Regions from separate parts of the Homo sapiens genome. Here regions 1 and 2 are each reported to be linked to region 3. Evidence: microRNA targets listed by miRTarBase, many of them from high-throughput screens and not tested one by one. Region 3 holds a microRNA gene; each other region holds the end of a gene's coding sequence.
The links. Region 3 holds the annotated microRNA hsa-miR-378f (ACUGGACUUGGAGCCAGAAG, at 1,111-1,130, shown strand). A microRNA usually pairs through its seed, bases 2 to 8, with sites in the 3' UTR of a target mRNA and lowers its output. Matches are read on the target gene's strand: a 7mer-m8 pairs with bases 2 to 8, a 7mer-A1 pairs with bases 2 to 7 and ends in A, and an 8mer does both.

Region 1: the mRNA of VPS37B is a reported target of hsa-miR-378f. Seed matches in the 3' UTR shown: 8mer at 1,081-1,088.
Region 2: miRTarBase lists LGSN as a target of hsa-miR-378f. Seed matches in the 3' UTR shown: 7mer-m8 at 1,395-1,401.

What each region holds. Positions count from the first base shown.
Region 1 is chr12:122,864,364-122,867,595 of GRCh38, reverse strand. It overlaps VPS37B (VPS37B subunit of ESCRT-I), which reads left to right. Exons shown (of 4, transcript NM_024667.3): 4 at 1-2,266. The coding sequence ends at 480. It overlaps LOC124903039 (a long non-coding RNA gene), which reads right to left. Exons shown (of 2, transcript XR_007063500.1): 1 at 3,014-3,232; 2 at 2,239-2,596. Among named protein-coding and RNA genes, the nearest start is that of VPS37B, 30 kb to the left of the region's middle.
Region 2 is chr6:63,277,270-63,280,521 of GRCh38, forward strand. It overlaps LGSN (lengsin, lens protein with glutamine synthetase domain), which reads right to left. Exons shown (of 4, transcript NM_016571.3): 4 at 1-3,252. The coding sequence ends at 2,752. Among named protein-coding and RNA genes, the nearest start is that of LGSN, 41 kb to the right of the region's middle.
Region 3 is chr1:23,928,011-23,931,262 of GRCh38, forward strand. MIR378F (microRNA 378f) reads left to right here and starts at 1,060; the gene lies at 1,060-1,137.

The DNA of each region.
Region 1 (3,232 bases), not on the chromosome of region 3:
AAGTTTCTGGATGGAGAACTTCCTCTGGATTCCTTCATTGATGTCTATCAGAGCAAACGGAAACTGGCCCACATGCGACGGGTGAAAATCGAGAAGCTCCAGGAGATGGTCCTAAAGGGGCAGAGACTCCCACAGGCCCTGGCCCCGCTGCCCCCCAGGCTGCCCGAACTGGCACCTACCGCCCCCCTTCCCTACCCTGCCCCAGAGGCCAGTGGGCCTCCTGCCGTTGCACCTCGGCGCATCCCCCCCCCACCACCCCCGGTGCCTGCGGGACGCTTAGCCACCCCGTTTACTGCGGCCATGAGTTCGGGACAGGCCGTGCCGTACCCAGGATTACAGTGCCCGCCCCTGCCCCCCCGCGTGGGCCTCCCCACTCAGCAAGGATTCTCTTCGCAGTTCGTGTCCCCATATCCGCCACCTCTCCCTCAGAGACCCCCGCCCCGGCTCCCTCCACACCAGCCGGGTTTCATCCTCCAGTGAGCGCCGGCGCGGTCCTTCCCGGGAGACTTCTTCCACCTGGCGTGTTGTGCTCTGCTCACGGGAAGGAGGCTGGAGGTCCGCTCTGTGCCAAGGGCTCTGGGGCCCTGGGCCAGCGTGTCTGTCTGATTTTAGAACTGTAGGTCAGTGGTGAGTAGTAGGAGCCCAGGCTTTGGGCATCAAGGCAGTTGTGTGTGCCGGGTTACAGCCTGACACCTGTGCGTTGCATCGGTTTGCATTATCCGTGTGATTTCTAAGTATCTTAGCGTTGATGAACTCATGTTTGGGAAGAAATAGGCCTCTCCCCCAGTCCCATTTAGAATCGTGGTCCTTCTGTTGCAGCTTTATTTAATGAGCATGGTTCATGATACTTATTTTATTTTCGAAAGACAGTCCTATGTGTCTCACCCACCGGCCACTGCAGCCCTGGTGAGGGCGGGTGGGCGCCGGCCGGCCTGGAAGAGCGCCGTGGCTGGGCCACCACCTGTGGCTGCGTTGTTGCTCACTGAATCTGTTGGGGAGAGGTCACCATAGTCACCGCCTGACCTGGCTGCTGCTCTTGCTTCAGAGCCACAAGCAAAGTTTGCACTGGGCCCACTGCCGAGTCCAGAGGCCGGAGAACGGCCACTGGTGTGGGAGGGGAGCGCACGAGTGGGACTTTGCACAGCAAATTGTGTCCCCAGCTCCTCCTCTCCCGCCTGCCTGGAGCCGGCCCTGAAGGTTTCTATGAAGAAATAATCCCCCAATATTTTTACTACGTGTGTGATTTTCCTGTTTTATATTGAAAAAACTTTTTTGACACTCCCAAGACCATTCAGGGAAATTTTATAAAAAATGCAGATACTGTCTTGAGCAGATCGAAATGCCGATGAAGTGGATGCAATTTCCTTTTGTGCAAGCAGTGCACGGTGCCCCCCCCTCGGGTGTCCGTGCTGTGCCTTAGCTTCCCCAGGTGCCGGGACTCACACCTGCTAGGGGCTGGGCAAGGCCCCGGCTCTGCTTTCTCTGAAGGGCTTGTCCAAGTTCATTGCCCTGTTACAGGTGGTCAAGACGTCCGGCCGCCTTGACCCAGGCTACCCTTAGCCAATATCCTCTGCCCCTGGGTGGCTGGTGGCTGGGCCTCAGGGTGGGCAACGTTAGGGGTTTGGCGAAAGCCCGCCCCATGGGATTGAGGGACGGGGCTGCACTCCAACCGTCTGCACCTGCTCTTCCCCCACCCCTGTGGGACCTCATCTTCACGTGCCATGTGTGCTGAAGGCCCAGGGCCCAGCAGGGGGCAGTGGCACCTGTTGACGGAAAAGGCCGAGGTGCTTACCAGTGGACCTTCTGGCCCGCCCCTCCCCTGTCACTTGTCGGGCATCCAGGGCCCCGACCTGTGCCTAGCCGCCAGGGTGACAGAAGGCAGAACTGAAGCGGGGTCTGGGCCACGGGCCAGGCCACTGCCTTTTGTCCTCAGTGACCGTACATTCCTGCTCTCGGACTTGAACTCTACTGTAACTGTTTTCTTAAAGGAAATGAAGCTGTACAGGACGATTCACTGCCATGCCAGTCAGGCGGGCTTGCCATGTTCTGTGAATCTCGAGTGAGCGGTGCCACCCGCCCCCATACCTCCGCCACCGGCCGCTGTCGGGGATGCCACAGCCTGCCACGGTCGCAGCCAGACGTGAGCTTGGCATTGAAGTTGCAAAGCGGCCCCTGGCCGGGCTCGCCGTCGCTGTCCAGGGCCGTGTCCGGTGCTGTGGCTGTAAAGCTGTAGGACCCTTTTTAATAAATAGAGAATTATTAATAACAGGCCTGTCACTTATTTACTTGGGGATGTGGATGTTCATGATGTCTGGTTCTGAAACATCAGTGATCAAAGTTCCAGCAGGGAAGCTGGCTGGGACGTCTGTTTTTGAAGCTGAAGACAAAATCTCTGCCTGTCCAGGGCCCCTGGCACAGGTGGGGCCTCTTACCCTCTTGGTCACCAGTCTCATAAACAGCAGTCACGTACAGGGCATGTTCTGTGTCTTAAGAGGGTGTCTTCAGGATCACAGCCACTGTGTCCAAGTAGGGGACTGAGGGTGACCTCAGGGCTCAGACTGTGCCTGCTCTCTGTCCGTGAGGTTGCCGCCGTGTGCTGTGTGAATGGTGGTACTTGTTAGGATTTTCTGTGTTGGTTTTTAGTGGGAAAACCAGTGGCTCTGATGTTTTGCTTTGGGGACTTGCCAGCAGGTGTTTCAAGAAGGCAGTTGCCTCTGCCCATTTCAAAGCCCAGTGGGTGCTGTTTCCTTCTCTAGGCCGAGAGGAGGGGACCCTGCAAACCCTGCCTCCTTGCAGAGCTACAGAACTGCCCTGTGCCCGCCGCCCCGGCTGAGCCGTGCGCCTGCAGCTATGTATGTCCGCCGCCCCAGCTGAGCCGTGCGCCTGCAGCTAGGTATGCCCGTCGCCCCGGCTGAGCCGTGTGCCTGCGTCCTCACCACCCCAGCTAAGCTGTGTATCTGGGTCACAATGCCCCTGCAAGGGACTTGAGGAACTGAGATGAGAGCAAGCTCACCTGTTGCTGTCTCCTGTAATAGCTGCCATTCCTGGCACATCATTGTTCTATGAGAATGTACAGGAGAAATTTCTGTGGTTTTTCTGTGAGGAAGAGGGAAGGATTTCCTGAGAAGCCAGTTAGCCTTAAAGAAAAAGTGTGTGATAGTTTCTTTCTTCCCAGTGGCTGCCAGGAAGCTTATAGCCAAATCTGTTGTCCACTCCAGTGAGGATGCTGGAC
Region 2 (3,252 bases), not on the chromosome of region 3:
ATTAAGGCCCGTGGACTATAAAGGGATATGCCACTTTATAGGGATGGGTTAGAGCCAATCCCATTTTTTGGATGTGTGGATCCCTTTGATTAACTCAGATTATCCTCTCTAGAAGTGGGAATATTGAGGAAGTCGTCTTTCACTGGTTCTTATACCTTTGTTCTTTCATCCCCAAATCCCTCAAATTCCCCACTCATATGCACACACTCACACACAAACACACATACAACACACACATGGAAAAGAGAAAATAAATTTCATTGCAACTAACAAAGAATCAAAATCATTGTGGCTTAAAGAAGATAGAAGTTTGGTTCTCTCTCAGGTAAACATCTGGATGTAGGCAAGTCAAACTGCTCTACAAAGCAGAGATTCCACCTTATTACTGTACCCTGTGGAGCAAACCTCCCTTCCCAAGGACATAATCCTAGCCACATTATCTGTAGGCCACTCAGCAGGAAGGGTGAAGGCAGCAAGAGAAAGAAAGGGCAGAGCACACAGCATCCGTCATTTAAAAAAATGTTCTAAAGTGTGGTAGGGCATGGTGGCTCATGCCTGTAATCCTAGCACTTTGGGAGGCCAAGGCAGGCTGATCACCTGAGTTCAGGAGTTCAAGACCAGACTGGCCAATATGGTGAAACCCCATCTCTACTAAAAGGCCAGGCATGGTAGCAGGCACCTGGGATCCCAGCTACTTGGGAGGCTGAGGCAGGAGAATTACTTGAACCCAGGGGGCAGAGGTTGCAGTGAGCCAAGACCCCCCCACATTGCACTTCAGCCTGGGTGACAAAGCGAGACTCCATCTCGGAAAAAAAAAAAAAATACAAGAAAAGAAAAGAAAATGTCCTAAAGAACTTATATGCAACACTTCTACTTTCACCTCTTTGCACTGAACCTAATAACATGACCACATCCAACCTTAATGAAGGCTCAGAAATATCATTTCATTTTTCATTGCTTTCAAAGAACATATTGAGGTTTTATTACTGAGAACAGAGGGGAAAATGAACAGAGGGGAATTTTCTAGCAGACAGCTAGAAAATTGGCATGAGAGTCTTCCTTATCCCTCCCATGATGTAATGTGTGGGATTTCATTCTGGAGGTTTCAGGACAGGTTCCCTTCCTTCCCCCAGCTACCCTACACTATCTTTCTCTCTACCCCATATGCATCCATGAATTTTATTCTTCTCTTTTTTTTAAGACAGTGTCTCACTCTGTCACCCAAGCTGGAGTGCAGTGGTGTGATTATGGCTCACTGCAGCCTGAAACTCCCAGGCTCAAGCGATCCTCCCTTCTCAGCCTCCCACGTAGCTGGGACTACAGGCATGTGCCACCATGCGAGGCATTTTTTTTTTTTTTTTTGTAGAAACAGGGGTCTCACTATGTGGTCCAGGCTGGACTCAAACTCCTGGCCTCAAGCAATCCTCCTGCCTTGGCCTCCCAAAGTGCTGGGAACTTTCTTCTTATGTATCCAAACACACTTCTCCTGCTCAAAGGAAAAAAGAAGGGAGTAATTAGTGAAGGATAGACTGACTTTCACTATTTAAGCTACTGAGTAATATGAATTTTAATAAGAGGATCTGAGCCAAATTCTAATCCTCTGCTTGTGCAATTGCTATCTAAATTGAGACTACAGTCAGTTTTAATTGAACATAAAATCTGCTGTTTGATCCTAAGCAGTAGAATAATGTTTCATTTGCTAGTAAGTGGATTTTGGACTTCTTCCCAAAAGCAGCTAAACTTTTGTGATAGTTACAATATTATCTCATTCAAACAAAGGCCTGGAACAGGTAATATTCTCTGGGGAGGTACCAACCTCTGTGAGCAGCAGATTCAGTAATTTGAATAACAAACTTAAACTCCAAACATAGCCCTGGCTAGCCAGGCAGTTGTTCTCACACTCCACAGAGCACTAGAGGTTTCAGAGGAACATCTAGTTTCAAAGAATGAAGCAGAGTAGACAGAGCCCACCTACCCTCACACACAAACATCTTTCTATCTATACTTTGTGTATTGAACTTCTATATGAGGCATTGTTAAAAGAAAGGCTTTAACTACTTTTAAAATCTGACCTCGTTGTTCTCAGCTCCAATTCTATTCCTTAGGGATTTGTTTCTTGAGGACATTATAACCTTGAAGTTCATAAGCTTTTCAGGAGCTAGTGGAGAAGGGTGAAAAGAGAAGAGACTTAGGGGAAAACTGCCTACCTGTCATTATATTTTGGCAAAAGTTTATTTAACTTGTTTAGAAAGACCATAATGGTGCATACAACCTGGATTCACAATATTATTTGATTAGCGAGACTATATTAGTATATTTGTCTCCCTGGAAATCATAACCTATGTGTACCATTAAAATTTTTTCTCCTTTTCTTTTTTTTCTTTTTTAGTCATTTAAATTTTGCTTTCTAATGCTTAAGTCTTTTTTTTCTTAATGTGCGAATATATTTATTGCCACCCAAAATTGGATATTCTTATCCAGGTCAACATACACATAGGAAATGACTGACAAGATCTGGTAAGTTTGCATATTATAGCTTCACCACAACTTTGTTGTTTGTTTCTGTTATCAGAATCTTCTCAGCAGTCCTACTTCATCTGTCAAATATTCCATGGACAAAAAAAAAAGTCAAAAGCATTCGTAATCTTGTTATTGTTGCTGTTGTTAATTACAAAAGTTCAGTCTTTTTGTTTTGGTAGATTAGCTTTAAGTAACAATTACATGTCTAAAGGAGTAGTTGTGAGCTCTATTCTAAATAAAATACTCTAAGAATTTATTTCTCTCTGCAGCTATTTCTTCATTCTCCAACTCATATTTCTTCATGGCAACAAAATATCGAATAAAGGTTTCTCCTAGAGCCTGTCTCAGGCATTGATCTTCTTCCAGTGCCACAAGGGCATCTTCTAGTTTTAAAGGGATCTCAGAAGGTTCCACTTGGTAAAAGTCTGTGCTCTCATCTGGACCAGCCAAGACCTCATTACTGCTATGAAGTCCATCTAAGCCGGCAGCAACAGTTGCAGCCAGCACCAAGTAAGGGTTTGCTGTTGCTGAGCCTAGTTTATTTTCTATCCGGGTGCCTTTCTCTCCATGACATTTGATATTAAATATACAGCTGTTGTCATTGTATCCCCATGTTGTAGGCACACTCTTCTTCAGGTCTTTCCTGTCCTTGGAATAACGCTTTCGGCAGCTAACAGAAGGCGCCATCAGGCAGCTGAGCGCAGCAGAGTGCTTCAAGAGTCCTGCCAACCA
Region 3 (3,252 bases):
TTTTTTTTTTTGAGAAGGAGTCTCACTCTGTTGCCCAGGCTGGAGCGCAGTGGCGTGATCTGGGCTCACTGCAAGCTCCGCCTCCCGGGTTCACGCCATTCTCCTGCCTCAGCCTCCCGAGTAGCTGGGACTACAGACGCGCGCCACCCACGCCCGGCTAAGTTTTTTGTATTTTCAGTAGAGACGGGGTTTCACCGTGTTAGCCAGGATGGTCTTGATCTCCTGACCTCGTGATCTGCCCGCCTCGGCCTCCCAGAGTGCTGGGATTACAGGCGTGAGCCACTGCGCCTGGCCCGCTCTGAGAGTAAATGAAGGCAGAGCTATGCCCATCCAGCTCCGTTCACCATTCACCACCAGCAACCACATGAGAGACCCCAAGTCAGACCACACAGGCAATCCCTTTCTGAATTCCTGACCCTCTGAAACCTTGAAAGATGATGAAATGATTCTTGTTGCTTTAAGCCACTAAATTTTGGGGCAATTACTCTTCAATAGCAGAATTTGTACAGTGTGTTTGGGAACACAGAAGAGGGATCAATCAAAAGAAATTGAACATTCAGCTGGGCACAGTGGCTCACACCTGTAATCCCAACAGGGAGGCCAGGCAGGTGGATCACGTGAGGTCAGGAGATTGAGACCAGCCTGGCCAACATGGCGAAACCATGTCTCTACTAAAAATACAAAAATTAGCTGGGCGTGGGGTGGCGTGCACCTGTAATCCCAGCTACTCAGGAAGCTGAGGCTGGAGAATCGCTTGAACTCGAAAGACAGAGGTTGCAGTGAGCCGAGATCACGCCACTGCACACCAACCTAGGTGACACAGTGAGACTCCATCTCAAAAAAAAAAAAAAAAAGGTGTTGAACATTCAATGTAAAGAAAGAAATTACACTAATACATTGAGTAGGATACCCAATAAATTGAGTTGCTGTTGAAAATAATCCTTAGACGAAGGCTTTCACATATAGCAGCTCAAAGAAAGTCTCCATTCCATGTTATCTTAGGAAACCTCTCTGGAGCTCCACTCCTCCCACTTCCTGCTCTTCCTCCCCAGCCCCTGGGTCAGGTCCTGGACTCCCATAGTTTTCAGGCTGCTAAACAACAGAACGAGCACTGGACTTGGAGCCAGAAGTCTTGGGCTCAAGCCCTGCCCTTACTGCTTACTAGCTGAATAATTCTGGGCAAATCAGTTGGACCAGTTACACCTCAGCCTTCTCATTTAGGAAATGGAGATGTCACAACTGCTAATTCATTGAATGCTCTGTATGAACTGACCACTAAACCCTTTAAATTGACCACTTCACTTAATCTGCATAACCACCCAACAAGATAAGGAATATTATTACTATTATTATTATTATTATTATTATTATTTGAGACAGGGTCTTGCTTTGTCACCCAGCCTGGAGTACAGTGGCACGATCACTGCTCACTGCAGCCTAGACCTCCTGGGCTCAAGTGATCCTCCCACCTCAGCCTCCAAGTAGCTGGGACTACAGACGTGTGCCACCACACCCAGCTAATTTTTGTATTTTTTGTAGAGATGAGGTTTTGCCATGTTGCCCAGGCTGGTCTTGAACTCCTGGGCTCAAGTGATCCTCCCGACTTGGCCTCCCAAAGTGCTGGGATTACAGGCATGAGCCACTTGTGCTGGGCCAACAGGAAATATTATCTTCATTTTCCCAATGGGGAAACTGTCCCAGAGATGTTAAGTAACTTGCCCAGAGTTATGCATCGTCTGCACGGCAGAGCTGGGATTCAACACTAGGCTGCCTTGCTCCAGAGCTTGTGCTCTTAACACTGTGCTGTCCCCGCGGGGGTGGGTGAAACTCTCAGGACAGCTTGTGAGAGTGTAGAAAAGGGCTTCTGTAAATGAAAGGAGTGCATGTGCAGAGGGGAGGAAACTTTATTTATTTATTTGAGATAGAGTCTCACTCTGTCACCCAGGCTGGAGTGCAATGGCACGATCTCGGCTCACCGCAACCTCCACCTCCCGGGTTCAAGCGATTCTCCTGCCTCAGGCTCCTGAATAGCTGGGGTTACAGGCGTGCGCCACCACACCTGGCTAATTTTGTATTTTTAGTAGAGATGGGGTTTCTCCATGTTGGTCAAGCTGGTTCCGAACTCCCGACCTCAGGTGATCCACCTGCCTCAGCCTCCCAGAGTGCTGGGATTATAGGTGTGAGCCACTGCACCCGGCCGAAAACTTTTTCTTTTTTTTGAGATATGTTCTCACTCTGGTTGTTGCCCAGGCTGGAGTGCAGTGGCGCAACCACAGCTCACTGCAGCCTCGACCTCCCGGGCTCAAGTGATCCTCCCACCTCCCACCTCAGCCTCCCAAGTAGCTGGGACTACAGGCTTGAGCCACCATACCCTGCTTTTTTTTTTTTTTTTTTTTTTTTTTTTGTAGAGACTGTGTTTGGCACATGTTTATGGTTACTTGCAACTCCCTGATAGCATCTGGCCTGTTCTGCCTTATAGCAGACATAGTTGCTCCTATTTCTGGGTCTTCCTGTTAAAGCTCCTTAAGGGCAAGCCCCACGTCTTATTCCTCTCTGCACCCTCACAGCATCCCATCCAGTGCCAAGGACTGAGTTGGGATTCAGAAAAAAAAAATATTTGAATGGAGTGGATTCCTCTATTAAGCCGAAACACTAAGACAATTATACCTGCTCATAAAAACATAATGAGAACAAGAACCTTTAAGAACACATTCTAGGCCAGGCGCAGTGGCTCATACCCGTAATCCCAGCACTTTGGGAGGCTGAGGCAGGTGGATCACCTGAGGTCAGGAGTTCGAGACCAGCCTGGCCAACATGGTGAAACCCCATCTCTACTAAAAATACAAAATATTAGCTGGGGCTGGTGGCGGATGCCTGTAATCCCAGCTACTCAGGAGGCTGAGGCTGGGGAATCACTTGAACCTGGAAGGCGGAGGTTGCAGTGAGCTGAGGTTGCGCCACTGCACTCCAGCCTACGCAACAAGAGCGAAACTCTGTCTCAAAAAATAAAAAAAAGAACACCTCTAAAAATTCTCAGCATTCCTGAAACGTTTCTAATGCCAGCTTTCTATTCTGGGTTTTAAACCCAAACCAACATGTTCTTTCTTCAGAGTTTGCAGATGTGGTCACAAAAGAAGGGGGAAAAGAGGAGAAGAGAATCTTTATAACTCATTCAGACACTCCCTGACACGTTCCTCAGGGTAAGAAGGAGGTTGTCTCTTCACCAGTGTTAGAATCTGGCTGGGGAGGAGG